2 separate regions of the Homo sapiens genome follow, and region 2 is linked to region 1. Evidence: fine-mapped expression QTL. Tissue or cell type: whole blood. Region 1 holds a variant in brackets; the other region holds the start of a gene. All regions are shown on one strand. Distances are from middle to middle.

What was found. PIP is the estimated chance that this variant, and not a neighbour inherited with it, causes the effect.
Region 2: SCML4 starts here. The variant in region 1 is fine-mapped to the expression of SCML4 in whole blood (TOPMed, PIP above 0.99).

What each region holds. Positions count from the first base shown.
Region 1 is chr6:107,716,441-107,724,547 of GRCh38, reverse strand. SCML4 (Scm polycomb group protein like 4) reads left to right here. Exons shown (of 8, transcript NM_198081.5): 6 at 3,555-3,845. Among named protein-coding and RNA genes, the nearest start is that of SCML4, 100 kb to the left of the region's middle. RefSeq lists a silencer at 7,623-7,772. The variant C/T (reference allele first, on the strand shown) is at 3,539.
Region 2 is chr6:107,819,616-107,827,722 of GRCh38, reverse strand. It overlaps SCML4 (Scm polycomb group protein like 4), which reads left to right and starts at 3,410. Exons shown (of 8, transcript NM_198081.5): 1 at 3,410-3,597. RefSeq lists an enhancer at 5,258-5,327.

The sequences.
Region 1 (8,107 bases):
TCTTTTTCATACTATTATAAATGGAATTATTCTCAATTTTATTTTCTAATTGTTAATTGCAAATGTGTAGAAATACAATTGATTTTTGCACATTGATCTTGTATCCTACAACCTTGCTGAACTACTTACTAGTTCCAACAGTCTTTTAAGTAGATTCCTTAGGATTTCGTACACATAAGAGATAGTTGTACTTCTTCCTTCCTAATCCAGATGGCTTTTCTTTTCCTTAACCTAATTGCACTGGCTGGAACCTCTAGTACAATGTTAATAGAAGTAGCTGGAATGGACCGTCTCTTTTTGTTCCTGATCTTGGGGGACAGCATCCAGTCTTTGACCATTAGCCATGATATTACCTATTGGTTCTTTGCAGATACCCTTTGTCAGATTGAGGAAATTCCCTTCTGTCCCTAGTTTGTTGAGTGATTTTATCATAAAAGGGTATTGGATTTTGTCAAATGTTTTTCTGCATCTGTTGAGGTGATTGTGTGATCTCTGTTTTATTATTCTATCCATATGGTGTATTACATTAATTGATTTTGGAATGTTAAATCAGGCTTGCATTCCTGGGATAAATCCTACTTGGTCATGGTGTATATATCTTTTTATATGTTGCCGGGTTCAGTTTTGCCAGGTTTTTTGTTGAGGATTTCTGCATTCATATGAATACCAGATATTGGTCTATAGTTTTCTTATGATGTGTCTGTCTGGTTTTGGTATGAGGGTAATCCTGGCTTCGTAGAAGTATTTGCCATAGAAGCTGGGAAGTATTCCACCCCCTTCTATTCTTTGGAAGAATTTGTAAAGAATTAGTATTATTTTTTCTTTAAATGTTTGGTAGAATTCAACCGTGAAGTTATTCAGGCTTGGGCTTTCTTTGTGGGTAGTTTTCTGATTACTAATTCAATCTTTTTACTTCTTACAGGTCTACTCAGATTGTCTTTTTCTTCTTAAGTCAGTTTTAGTAGTTTGTTCATTTTATCTAAGTTATCTAATTTACTGGCATACAACTGTTTATAGAACAGATGGTTCCCTACTTAAGATGGTTTGACAATGATTTTTTTCACTTTATGGTGGTGTGAAAGTGATACACATTCACTGAAAACCATGCTTCAAGTATCTATACAACAATTCTGTTTTTCACTTTCAGTAAGTATTCAGTAAATTACATGAGATATTCAATACTTTATCATAAAATTGGCTTTGTGTTAGATGATTTTGTCCAACTGTAGGCTAATGTAAGTGTTCTGAGCATGTTTGAGGTCAGCTAGGCTAAACTATAATGTGTGGTAGAGTATGTATGCTAAATGCATTTTCAACTTATGATATTTTTAACTTATGATAAATTTATTGGGATATAACCCTATTGTAAGCAAAAAGCATCTGTATTTCTCAATCTTTTTCAATTTCTGTAAGGTTGGTAGTAATTTCCTCTCTTTCAGGTTTTCATTTCTGATTCTAGTAATTTGAATCATCTCTCTTTCCTTCTTTACGTTTTATTTGTTTATTTTTTTGTCAATGTAGCTAAAGGCTTGCAATTTTGTTGGTTCTTTTTCCAAAGAACAAGCTTTTGGTTTTATTGATTTCTTCTATTGTTTTTTAAAATTCTCTATTGAATTAATTTTTGCTCAAATCTTTATTATTTCCTTCTTTGCTTTTTTTTCCAGTGTCTTATGATAGAAGATTAGGTTATTCATTTGAGATCTTTCTTCCTTTAACAGAAGTATTTACAGCTGTAAATTTACCTCTAGCCACTACTTATCTGTATCACATCTTCAAAGACTTTTATTTTTAGTCAAGCTCCACATCCATCCCCAACTATGAGAAGATCTGCTAGCTTCCCTAATAAAATCAAGTCTTAATCTTCAATAATCTTCCTACATTGTGGAAGAATCCATGTATGGAGAAGACATTTGGATCTTGTGGCCTCAAATTTGTTTTTCATTGCCAATCATGGAGGATCCATTGGTTTTTGTTGTTGTTGTTGTTTTGTTTTGTTTTTATTTTTCATATTTTTGCTGATTGCATTTTCTTTGGGCATACCAAGATCTGTTTTGATGGTGTCTAATATACAGATAATTATTGCTGGGGACAGGTAGACATGATCTTGTCCTGGTGGGAGGGACTAGAATAGTTTCCTTCTTTCTATCACCGTAATTTCTCTGGACTTCCCCCACCCCCCAAAAGAAAAACTCCACATAAAAATAATAAAACAAACAAAAAACCCACCATTCGGCCACAGGTGTAGCTCACAGGGAGTTCAACAGGCTCAATGTTGAGCTTTAAAAGTATAGGACTGTAATCCCAGCACTTTGGGAGGCCGAGGCAGATGGATCACTTGAGGTCAGGAGTTTGAGACCAGCCTGGCCAACATGGTGAAACCCCATCTCTACTAAAAATACAAAAATTAGCCGGGTATGGTGCTTCCAGCTACTCGGGAGTCTGAGGCAAGAGAATCGCTTCAACCAGAGAGGTGGAGGTTGCAGTGAGCCGAGATCGCACCACTGCACTCCAGCCTGGGTGACAGACTTATTGATTAAAACTCCATCTCAAAAAAAAAAAAAAAAAGTATGATAAGTCCTGGTTTACTTAAGAGGCGCTGATGATGAGGTTGGCAGACTTTCTAAGTCCTCTCCTCCCTCTGCACTTTAGCTTGGCTCTTTAGCTCTCCTGTGAAGGGTTTGGGGAGGATTGTGGGGCTATCCAGATCAGCACTTGCATCCCTGCTTGTTAGCCGTGGCGGAGGATGGCTGCCCTCATGTGTTTGTATCAGGACTAAAGGTGTGGGGAGAAAGCACTGTGGCACCTGGGCCACCACCCAGGCCACAGTTGTCTCTCCTGACTCTGGGACATTGTGACTCTTGCTTGATCTCTCCCAGGAGTCCTGAGCCAGGTGAGGGGGGCTGTGCTGGTGGGTGAGCAAGAGCAGGGAGTACAGGGAGATTCTGAGAAGCCAGCAGAGACTGTGAGGGCAGAGCCACTGCAGAAGAAAGTCTTTGATCTTACTCTTTTTTTTTTTCTTTTTTTGAGATGGAGTTTTGCTCTGCAACCTCTGCCTCCCGGGTTCAAGCGATTCTCCTGCCTCAGCCTCCTGAGTAGCTGGGATTACAGGTGCCTGCCACCACATCCGGCTAATTTTTTGTATTTTTAGTAGAGATGGAGTTTCATCATGTTGGCCAGGCTGGTCTTGAACTCCAGACCTCAGGTGATCCACCTGCCTTGGCCTCCCAAAGTTCAGGGATTACAGACGGGAGCCACTGCACCTGGCCTGATTTGGGCTTATTAAGTCATCAATGGCCAAAATATCAATTTTCCTCTAAGCACCGAGGAGCACACCTCCTAATTCCTATTACAATATGCTCCTGTGGGCAAAGCAGCTCTCAGCCTGCTGACAGGTATGCTATTTGGAATTATGTTGTGAGGTTCATTTCTCCTCTCTGCATGCTCACAAATACTGGCTACTGTGTTGGCAGGGCAGGGTTTGCCAAGACGGAGGGTCTGATAGCTTCCTGAACTGCTCTCTGATATCTGCTTCTCTGTA[C/T]TGCCTTATTGCTTAGTCAAGACAGTCACCACCGAAGAGTACCTGGTGAACCCTGTGGGCATGAACCGCTACAGCGTGGACACCTCCGCCTCCACCTTTAACCACAGGGGCTCCTTGCACCCCTCCTCCTCGCTGTACTGCAAGAGGCAGAACTCTGGAGACAGCCACCTTGGGGGTGGTCCTGCTGCCACCGCTGGTGGTCCCCGCACTAGCCCCATGTCTTCTGGTGGCCCCTCGGCACCTGGGCTGAGGCCTCCAGCCTCCAGCCCCAAGAGAAACACGACCTCTCTTGAAGGAAACAGATGTGGTAATGTAATGCATGCATCAGCTTCCCACTGACTTAACATCCCTTGCCCTTGCGCGGGGAGCACAGCATCTGGGGAAGGGGGAGTGTGGCTGTTTAAACGTGGGACTGCTGGGAGATCAGAAATTTCCACAAGTCCTTTCATGGATCTTGAGGTTCTCAAAAACAGCCAAACTCAACCTTTGATAAGCAAAGAAAATCGTGTATTAGGGCAGGCTAGGCCACAGGATACGTAGACTCCAAAATGTACACAGGCTCAAATACCATAGAAATTTTTGTTCGAGAGCCAAAGGTGAATGTTCCTGATTCATGGATGCATCTCAATATAGGGACATAGGCTCCATCTATTTTGTGGCTCTGCCACCCTCTACAGCCTTCATGCCCCATGCATTAGGGAATAGAAAGGGAAAGAAGGTGTGGAGAAGACACAGGTGCTTCCCTGCAATCTGAAAGTGATGCTCATCACTTCCACTCACATCTCATTGGCAAAAGCTGGTCATTTTGCCACACTTAACCATAAGGGACTCTGGAAGCTGTAGGTTAGCTCTGCCCAGGAGAAAGGAGAACCAGACCTTGGTAAAGAATTGTCTCTTGCATAGGAAGTGTCACCTTCAGGATACAAATACATGAGCAGAGGCAGAGTTAGGCAAAATTCCCCCAATGCTGGTTGTAATGCCACTTCTGTCTCATCCACTAAAGAAAGCTTGTTGGAATGCAGTCTACAAAAGCGCTATAAGGGCTAAAGGATTATAGTAATAGCTTGAAGGCCCTTCTGATTGATGTTTTAAAAAATCATTTTCAAGCTTCAGTATTTTGATAGTGCCTAAAGGCCATAGAGTATAGTGGATAATCACTGGGACTAGAGCCAGACAGCCTGGGCTGAGATGCTGGATCTGCTGCTTCCTGCCTACCTTTTGCAAGTCTTAACTTACCTGTGCTTCAGTTTCCTCACCTATAAAATTGTGATAATAATAATGGCAGCACCTGCCTCATAGGATTGTTGGGAGGATTAAATGAGTTCATACATGCATTTAGTACAAGACCTAGGAGGTAACAAGAGCTCAATAAATGTTAGTAGTTACAGCATAGATCTTTTTAACACATCCCTTAACAGATCACAGCCCATCAGCTCCACAGCTGAGAACTGCTGAAGAAAGAAGGCCCCAGGCCAAGGAGTCTGGGAGTCTTCATCTTGCCACCCTGTAGCCCCTCAGTGGGCAGGCTCTGTCTTCTGTGGCAAGTCACATTTCTCCCCTGAGCCTAGGATCCTTCCACCAGTGACCCCAGCAAGCCGCACACGTGAGCTATTTTGTATGATTCAAGACCCTCCACACATTCTCTTCCAAGAGCCTCATCCAACCCAGATGAGCGTGGCCCTGACCAGCTTCCCCTGGCCAAGGATGGAGAGGTGAGAAGGGGCCCCTTGCCGGAGAGGCGTTCTGAGGGGTAGAGCGCAGATTCTCCCTCCACAGCAGCTCTTACCAAATGTAGAGATGCCCTGCAGGCCACTTTCCAACACTGTCACACAGGGCCATGAGCCAGGCAGATTAAGTGAGCAGAGCCCTATTTTCCAAAGGAGAGCAACATTGTTCCATTTGATTCCTAAGAACAAGAGAAAGGGACAAGATCTTTCACGAACCAACACTGTAAAGTAAACCAGGGGCAGCCTTGATTTCATAGGTTTGTCCCCAGTGTTAGCTTAATATCTGGCATGTGGTAGGTGTTCAATAAACATGCATCATGTCTGTGCCCTCACGGTGTCCCTTTGTCTTCTTGTCAAAACACTCATCCTTATGTCCCTCTTGAGTTTAAATGTCTTTCTCTCATCCTCTTCTCCTCAGCCCCATTCCCCTTTTCTCAGGGTGGTGATCACAGGACACCATGCTGATTGAATTGACTCATAATCCCAGAGTCCCACTTTTTAAAAAGGAGATATTTACTCTCTCTCCCACTCACGTTGGTGCAATCTCAGCCCTATGTCTTAAATGCAGGATTTCCAGCAGTAAGAGGGAGGCATGATTTGGTTGGAGAGAACTTCTATCACTCACTCAACAACAGTCTGCCCTGTTCAGTCCAACTGGTGACCCAGGGCCAGGGAATCCAGGGCTCTTCAGAGGGCTTCAGCATAGCTCCTGTCCCCCAGCCCCTCACACCTCCTTCCAGTTGAGCCCTAGGATGTCCTCCTGTCCTTCACTTTCATCCCCATACCGGCCCTTTGTTCTCCTGTGTATGAGTCTGTTCTGCTAATAAAGACATACCCGAAACTGGGTAATTTGTAAAGGAAAGACGCTTAATGGACTCACAGTTCCACATGGCTGGGGAGGCCTCACAATCATGGCAGAAGGCAAAGGGAAAGCAAAGGCACGTCTTACATGGTGACAGGTAAGAGGGCTTGTGCAAGGGAACTCCCCTTTATAAGACCATCAGATGTCGTGAGACTTACTGGCTACCACAGGAACAGAATGGGGGAACCAAACCCATGATTCAATTATCTCCAACTGGCTCCATCCTTGACACATGGGGATTATTACAATTCAAGGTGAGATTTGGGTGGGGACACAGAGCTAACTCATATCATCCTGGAATCAGGCCCTGACAGTCTGAGTAATCTTGCCAGACGACTGGCCGAGGGGCAGCCCAGACCCTTCCTCAGCCTCCAGCTCTGAGAAAGCCTCTCTGCTGGAGCCTGGTTGCACCCCAGGAGAGGCCCCCTAGCTCAGGCCCTTCTGCCTGTCAGGATCTGGGATGAGATCAGAGACACGGAGTCCACCTGTGCCTGCTGCCTTTCATCCCAAGAACATCAATACCTGAACCCTGAATCCTGGCTGTCTTTTTAATAACTTAGAAGTATTAGAACCAGCCAGGCACGATGGTTCATGCCTGCAATCCCACCACTTTGGGAGGCCAAGGCGGGTGGATCACTTGAGGTCAGGAGTTTGAGACCAGCCTGACCAACATGGTGAAACCCCGTCTCTACTAAAAATACAAAGATTAGCTGGGTGTCGTGATGCACGCCTGTAATACCAGCTACTTGAGAGGCTGAGGCAAGAGAATCGCTTGAACCCGGGAGGTGGAGGTTGCAGTGAGCAGAGATTGCGCCACTGCACTCCAGCCTGGGCAACAAAGCTAGACTCTGTCTCAAAAAATAAATAAATAAAAATAAATATTAGAGAGAACTTTGCCTGAGACCCTGAAATCCAGTTGTCCATAATCAGCAGGACCCCCACCACGGGACTGTGGGATGTTTAAAATCGCAAAGCCACCTAACCTCTTTGGAGAAAAGCTGCTATGTGATGTATCAGTTGAAGTTCACTGTTGAGCCTTTGTGATACACTGAAGAAAAATGAAATTATTCATCCTTTGTAGGTCTGTTAACACTTTAATTCTCCGAAGATTCCTTTTTTTTTTTTTTTTTGAGACAGAGTCTCGCTCTGTCACCCAGGCTGCAAGCTCTGCCTCTTGGGTTCATGCCATTCTCCTGCCTCAGCCTCCTGAGTAGCTGGGACTACAGGTGCCTGCCACCACACCTGGCTTTTTTTTTTTTTTTTTTTTTTTTTTTTTTGTATTTTTAGTAGAGACGGGGTTTCACAGTGTTAGCCAGGATGGTCTCGATCTCCTGACCTCGTGATCTGCCTGCCTCGGCCTCCCAAAGTGCTGGGACCACAGGCGTGAGCCACCCCGCCCAGCCGAAAGATTCCTTTTAACCAGTGCCTTCCTCAGGGTGCTAAATAAAACCGCAGGTACCAGAAACAGCCAGTCAGCCATGCACATTCTCAGCAGTGAGACAGAGGAAGTGGGTGGGGAGAAGACGGAAGGAAGGATAGCACCAGTGTCTCTGAAAGAGGTTTCCGTTTCTGCTTACATTTCATTGACCAAAATGTAGTCACATGGCCACTTGCTGCAAGGGATGCTGGGAAATGTGGTTTTCATTCCTAGCAACCATGATTCCAGATGGAAGTTAGGGCTGCTATTACAGAGGAAGAAGTGCAAAGTAACGCTGAGTAGGCAATGGGAAGTCTGATCAGAAATGCTCACTCCCTCCTTTTTCCTCCCATGGCACTTTGTTTCCTCATCTATAGTTCTTACTCTATCCTAGAGAAAGGAACAGACCCTCAGCTTTGTGAAGCCTCTTATTCATATTTGAACCCCCCACAGCCCTGGCAAAGGGGGGCTTGAGGCCTGTATCAGACTGTTATTTATTGAACACCTACACTCAAGGGGGCCAGACAGTTTCCGACTTATTATAAGTTATATGTTTAGGATTT
Region 2 (8,107 bases), 100 kb before region 1:
AACATGCTGCTTGTGGTCTGAGACAGAAATGTAACCACAGTGCAAAGAAAATTAACAACGTGGCACAACCTAAGCACCCTTTTCATGGGACAGGGATGTACAAGACTTAGAGAGATGCTAGCTCAGAGCGGTCACTTTTCTTCTTAGCAGGTCCCTCAGCTAATACCAGTCATCCCATCAAATTTCTTTTTTCTTACATGTTTAACTTAAATTTTTCTTGGAATTAAAAACATTTAGGATTTTTTAAAATATTGATTTAAGTTATTAAAAGCTATGTTCCTGGTTGCATGAAGAAAGAAATCCCAGTAAGTTTAAATATATATATTTTAATAAATGTGTGTATATACAGATATATTTAAATAAAAAAATTTAAGTAAAAAATATAAAGATATATTTAAATAAAAATATACATTTAAGTAAAAAACAAATATATATTTAAATAAAAATGTAAATATATATTTAAATAAAAATGTAAATATATTTAAATAAAAATATAAAGATATATTTAAATAAATATATTTACATATTTATTAAATTTATTAAATTACATAATTTAATGAATAATTTATTAAATATCAAATATTTTGAATAACATATTTAAGTAAATAAATATTGTTTACTTAAATATATACATATATATAAAAAATATATATATTTTTTGAGACGGAGTCTCGCTCTGTCGCCCAGGCTGTAGTGCAGTGGCGTGATCTCGGCTCACTGCAAGCTCCGCCTCCCGGGTTCACACCATTCTCCTGCCTCAGCCTCCCAAGTAGCTGGGACTACAGGCGCCTGCCACCACTCCCAGCTAATTTTTTGTATTTTTAGTAGAGACGGGGTTTCACCGTGTTAGCCAGGATGGTCTCGATCTCCTGACCTTGTGATCTGCCCACCTCAGCCTCCCAAAGTGCTGGGATTACAGGCGTGAGCCACCGCGCCCAAGCAATCCAGCTTTTGTTGATTTCAATTTTAGGCTTTATTACCAAGTTGACCTGTTAGATGACAATGGGTGCTTCCCACATGCACCCACCTTGAGGACAAGGACAACAGTAGCCCATCTGGGAGGAGGCAAGGAGGTTGGGCCTGAGGATCAGAGTGAGAAACCCTCACAGAGCTGGGTAGGAAAACCAGCAACTCCTTTCTTATGGGTAGATTCTGCCAACCCTTTTACTTCTTTTACAGGACTTGGAGATTATTTCTGATTACTTAAGAAATGTTATTTTTTTTAATCCTAAGAAACATTTTAGAGTGAAAATTGGTCTAATGTCTCAGCCCATTCCAGGTGCTTTAAGCTCAGTGTAGTGTGGCATGTGTGAGGCCACGGGTGTGAGTATAATAACCGCTGTCGCTGGGACAGAGATGCTGTCCAAACTTAAATCATCCATCTTCTTTCCTTTTCTTTCCTTTTCTTTTCTTCTTTTTCTTTTCTTTCTTTTCTTTTCTTTTCTTCTTTTCTTTTTCTTTCTTTTTTCTTTTTTTTTGAGATGGAATTTCACTCTTGTCACCCAAGCTGGAGTGCAATGGCGTGATCTCAGCTCACTGCAACCTCTCCCTCCCAGGTTCAAGCGATTCTCCTGCCTCAGCCTCCCGAGTAGCTGGGATTACAGGCAAGCGCCACCAAGCCTGGCTAATTTTTGTATTTTTAGTAGAGATGGGGTTTCACCATGTTGGCCAGTCTGGTCTCGAACTCCTAACCTCAAGTCCAGGAGTCCCAAAATGCTGGGATTACAGGCATGAGCCACCACACCTAGCCCATCCATCTTATTTTCTTTTTTTTTTTTTTTTTTTTGAGATGGAGTCTCGCTCTGTCACCCAGGCTGGAGTGCAGTGGCACGGTATCGGCTCACTGTGAGCTCCGCCTCCCGGGTTCACGCCATTCTCCCTCCTCAGCCTCCCAAGTAGCTGGGACTACAGGCGCCCGCCACCACGCCCAGCTAATTTTTTGTATTTTTAGTAGAGACGGGGTTTCACCATTCACAGGATGGTCTCGATCTCCTGACCTCGTGATCCACCCGCCTTGGCCTCCCAAAGTGCTGGGATTACAGGCATGAGCCACTGCACCTGGCCCATCCATCTTATTTTCTTTTCTTCTCCTCTTCCTCCTTCTTTAGTGAAATCAACTTATATGAAATGAAAATGCAAACTACCAAACCTGCCTTTTCCCATACAAAACAACAAAATTTGATGATTAAATGAACTAAAGTAGTGAATTTCTTCTTGCTCAATTAATTACAAGGCTTTGACTTAAAACAATTTTTTATATTTTCATAATAAATTTCAGAGGAGAGATTTCTTATGTACTTCTAATGTGACTCTACACATATATTTAGAGAAACCTCAAGTTGTCCATTGCAGTTTTTTTCACTCTCAGTAACTGGCCAGGTTGTGGCCTAAGCCTTCGTTAGCCCTGGTTGATATTTAGTCCCGGCTAAATTTGTTTGCTGCTCATCCCTAGGAGTAAGCCACATGTTTGTAGAATGGATGTTTCATCTTGTAGGAAATACCTGTGAATATGCCAATATCCCAGAGTGGATGAAATGGGCAATGGGGAGCCCTGCTCCACTTTACAAAAAGAAAGGAAAAGAAAAGATCCCTTCGCCGATATATATTGATTTGCTGCAGAAAATGCAATGGGGCATGGGAATGAATAGTCACTCTTGCCCTGTTTCTATCCTGTGCAGGTCCCACCACGTTGAGGTGGGTAGAGATGCTTACACACACACACATACAGGCCTGGAGCCAAAGTCAGGGCCGGCTTTAATGAACTGTACACATATGTTGTGGGCAGCCGCTGATTTAATATGTACAACCATGGTGTGTGCACACACCTGGATAGGCACACTGCTCTGGGAATCACACAGGGTCTCCTGAACAATGATGCTATTGTAATATTTCTTTTTGTTTTATTTGTCCAAAGTCAAACATTCACTCTGTCAGATCACCAGTGTCTTATAAGCCTGGTGTTGGCCCACACTGCTGCAGGATTGGGACAAAGAGACGATGTTACAGTCTGGTTTCTATGGCAACAGAGGAGGGGTAATGAAAACTGAAATGTTGGAAACACCCATTCTAACCATTGTGACATAATTCAGGTTATTACAAGGATGTAACTACCAAAGAAGCAGAAGTGTCATTACCTTGCAGCTCATGTCGACAAAAAGCTACACTGCACATTTCTCTTAGGCTGCTAAGAGGAAGGAAACACAAAACACACACACACACACACACACACACACACACACACACACACACACACACACACAGAGGCCTCGTTTTCTGCATGTAAAATGTGTGTGTTCTTTAAAAGCCAGTGGTTGGCTGGTTTTCCGGACATGATGTGGTTGAAGCTGTCATCGTAATGGAAATTCATTGCTGTAGCTATGGTAAATCGAGTTTTCTGCCTGTGCTGAATGCATTAGTCTAATGAGATGTTTGCAGCTGGAGCGCAGGGCTGCTGGAGACTAACTGTGAGCTACTAACACGGGTGGAAGATAGCTTTTGCAATACTCGGTTTGCATGTGCTGAAAGTCATCTGTCTTCTGAGTCAACACTCCCGACCTGGTAAACAACCTGCTCAGGGCTCTGGTGAACAAGCTGTAGGTAAGGGAGATGCACAATTGGAGGCGTGCCGTTGACACGGGATCTTTCTCTTGTAACTGTCAGCATGACAGGTTACCTGTTTCAGTTTTTTCTGGGTTGCATGCCTACCTCTATGGCAACGCACAAGAGTGTCCTGCACTAAAACCACTGAGTCCAGTAGGTAAACTTTAGTTCCTCATATGCAAAGTACAGCATTTAATTTATTAACCAGATCTCAGAGGGGAAAATGTAACATTGAATTATATAGTTTATAAATTTGGGCTATATACATGTTCATTACTCTTTAACTCTGCATTTAAATACCTAGAAAGTTATTTTTTTCCAAATGTGAACTCAAGTAACCGGTTAGTTATTTTTTCCCTTCACGATAATTTTGCTTTGTTTTGCTTTTTAATTTTAAAAAAATTGTACTATGTCTTGGGATAAAAATATTTACCTAAAATTTGGTTATTAAAATTGGTATGTTATGAACATGTAAAAGTGTTTTTTTTCCCATTTAATTTTATTTCAAATATCCCAGGTAGAATATTTCACATGTCTTTGTGCTGGTTTTTCCTAATTTATGAGGCATAAATAAGAATAATATTTACTGCTAGTTTCTGGTTTTAATTCGTTTTTTGGGAAAAAAACTGGTGACTATGGAGTATTAGCGGCAGTTTTCCCAAGCTCAAAATCACCTCCTTCCCAGGTGGAGCACTGTGACTTGAACCAGCTTCCACGTGCTCCTCCCAAAGCATGAGGGGTCCTCTCCAGGTTGATTGCTGGCTGGACAGGAGCGGTGGATGAGGCCAGGGTGCAGGCTGCTGAGCTGTTTTGCTGAGTTGAGGTGCTTGAGTCAAAGTTCTTTCCACTATCTGTGATCGTGAACGAGAGGTGTCTCCTCGTGTTGTCTCTAGATTCCATGACGGTACTCATGAGGGTTAGACAATCAGTGGCTTTCTGAGAAAGTGGTTTTTTACTGATCTCAGACACTACAGTACTTGAGAAAGTAATCCAGGCACTTCAGAATCAGGGTATTTGTTATATGCTGTTTTTCTTTCTTTTCAACCAGAGGAACCATTTTTGAAGAATGAGGGATATAGCTGCTTTTTTTCTCCACTTTTTTTTTTTTAAAGCAAAATAGAATATCTGGAGTGAAAGCATAAAAATAACTACAAAGGAATTCTTAGTGTGTTAAACTATCTGGGGGGTATAATATTTGTGTGGAGCATTTTTTGTGTTGCTTGGTAGAACTAGTCTGATAAAATGAGGGGCTGTTTGAGCAACAGCAGCTGGGTGAAGATTACCTAGAAAATCGGTACTGCGTGATCGTCTAAACTCAAAAGGTTAATGTAGAATCTTCAGTTTTAGGGAAATTGGTGGCTTCACAAACTATAACTTTTAAACAGGCTTTTTGACAGAATTTTTAAAAAATATGAATGTGTTTTCTTTAGCTCTTTAAATTGTGTACGTAGATGAGCTCTGAAATATTTTGGTAAATTCATCAGTTTGCTTCATTTGTGGAATTATAACAAAAGTGCAAAGCCCACAAAAATCCAGTTCTTTCATGTATAACATGTTTACATTTCTTCCCTGTGTCCCCAAAATTACTTTTATTTTGCTGCAAAAAAAAAAAAAGAAAAGAAAAAAAGAAAAGAGTAAATGAACGGTAATAGAAAGACAAGAAAACAATAAGCGAAACGAGTAAGTTGCTTTTCATCATTTCTTTGCTTTTGGTGGTGTGTTTTCGAGGCGAGGGAAATCAGCAGAAGCAGTTTCACTTTCTGGTTCTTGACTCCTGGGGGTGAGGGTGAAAGGCTGTCTCCTCTAGCAAGCAGCAGGTAAGCTAAGCAGCTCAGCCCACAGAAAACAAGCCAGACCCAAATACTGTCACTTGCTGCAAGAACTTTTATAATGAGAGTTCAAAACAATATTGACTTTAAAAAAATACTCAGTAACACTTTCCTATTAAAAAATTCAAGCACTACCCCAAAGTACAAAGATAGACTTTTTTAATTTTTAAAATTTGAAATGATGAGAAAATCATCTCTGCTGTTTATGTATTTTTAATCTCAATTTTGGATCTCAAATACTTCAATACTTTTAAGGAAACATAACTGAAGTTCCCTGAAATCATAACAAGGAATGCTCGGAGAGGAATAACCTTTCTGGGAGTCTGGGGGCTTAAATGTTAGAGTGCTTCGTAGGTCTGTTTACAATTTTGTGTGGCCTGAGGACACATCACACATGTGTCCACACATCCTTTATGACACGCACCTTAAAGAACTTTTGGTCCAGGCAGAGGTGGTGGCTGGAGCTTGAAAGCCCTCACAGGGGCCCTGTTAGGGATCTGCAGGACAATTTTCCTCCCCAAGTCCCTGCCCTCGGAAACCTCAATATCACATGGGTAGATGCCAGGGAGCCGGGATGTGCCCATCCCACTCCACAAGTCCTGAAGAGCGTGGCAGGTGACACTACCCCTCATTGGGCTGGGAGCCTTAGGATACCAAGCATCTCCAGTGTCATTCTTCCCCTGAGCCCTCAGATTTTATGTGGGGATGGAATGGGAAAGAAGGGAAAGGAGATGAGAAAAGACCCTCTTTTAATCTGATTATCATGGAGCGTAAAATCTTGTCTAACATTTTGTGGATGAAGTTTGTGAAAGCAGTTGCCTTTGGTGTGATCACACAAGCTTCTTTCTTTTGGTGGGCACATCTGATGTTTCTAAGAAGGAACTTTTAAACAATGCCTCCCTAGACATCTTATTTCTTAATTCTGCCATCTCTCAAAAGGCTAGTTTTAGATTTACACATTTTTTAATGTTTTCATTGCCTTCAAAAGCAGACAGGTGAGGAGAGAAGAGGGGGATTAAATCAGCCCCTGGGAGAGACATTAAACGGCTTGGTACAGATATCATATAACAGAAGCCACCAGGGTATCTAGTAAATTACTCTAAATTTTAATTAATGAGTCACAAAAGCCACACCACAAGCTTTAAAAATTACCCTTTTATCAATAAGGTGATAATTAACTTTCTCTGGAATTAGCAGTTCTCTCAGCCCCGGGGCAGTACACAGCCTAGTAAGTTCTCTGGAATGCTGCCAATTTTTAACAATTGGTCTTTTGGCAAACCTACTGGATTTTAATTCAAACATCTATTGTGACATTTTCCAACGTGGTCCACAGACCATTAGGATCACCCAAATCGTGGTAAAATTTCTGAGGTCAAAAGAGCAGCTTGGAATGTTTGAATCGCATTTGAATATGTCACTTTCTCCTTCTTCTTCTTTTTTTTCTTTTCTACCTTTCCCCACCCCAAACTTCTGCATTTGCAAGAGCGCAGTGCTCCAGTCTGCTGTAAATCTCTACTAGAGTCTCTGCTGTAAATCGCTGTGGGGAACCCTGCATTTGTTGATACGCCCATACCAAGTCCGAACGCCCTGGCTGCCAGCCCGTGGGTTCTAAGCGTTTTTCATTGTTGCACTCGTCTTGGTTTCAATTCTGGCAAGGGCTCACTCCTTCATGTTTTTGCAAACTCTCACCCGTGGTTTGTCAAATGCTGATCTTTAGTTTGAGACTTGAAGAAGTGCTTTGGGCAAGAGGGCCATTTTGGACATGCTTACAGAGGCTTGGAATTTAGCTTCCTCTGATCTGCATATATTAATGTCTGAAGAGGCACAGACAGGAGCATTCAGCATTGCAGAGCAGCCTGCCCCACAACAGCCCTTCTCAGACATGCATACGCACACGCACACACAAACACACACCCCTCCCAGTGCGGCTGGTCACTGGTGGGTGGCATTCAGGGACAGCCTCAGGAGGGACACTGCTATTTGGGTATAGCATCTGGAGGGCAAGTGGTGATGGATGCAGATCATCCCTTCAAAAGTCAGCCTCCTCTCTTCCCTCTGGATCTTTCAAATGTTAGCATTGCTGGGCTCCTGCTTCTCTCAGCCAAGAGACGTGGCCAGGGCTGAATACCGGTGACAAGGCTTCCTGCTGGGTTAAGCAGGCAGTTCTGACACAGACAAGAACATCCCTGCCTTCAGGCGGATGGGGTGGAGACCAGCAGCAAGCTGCAATTGTGCATTCTGGAATAAATCAGCACTTAGCAATCAGGAGAAGCCCTTTGCTGCCGCGGAGGAGATAAAACACCTCTTACTTCTTGGGATGATTATTTCTTGGGCTACTATTTTAGGACAGAAAGGAATTTATTACCCAGTGGCAGTTCTCACTTTGCATTAAGCTGAAAAGTCATTCCACTCAGTCCATTTGACACTCTGAAGTAATGGGAGTAGATTTTGATATCCACATTGCATATTTCCCGGGGTGACTATTACTATACCAGTTTTACTAGTTGTGTTTTAGTCCAGTGATAAGAAACCATATAAACTCCTCTTACTCTGCCACTAACTTAGACACATGCTACCTAAATTTTCATTTGTGGGGAGGCAGATGTGCTTTTTTTTTTTTTTTTTTTGGCAGTTGCATTTTTTGATCAGATAAATGCAACCCACCATTGCTGATTTTC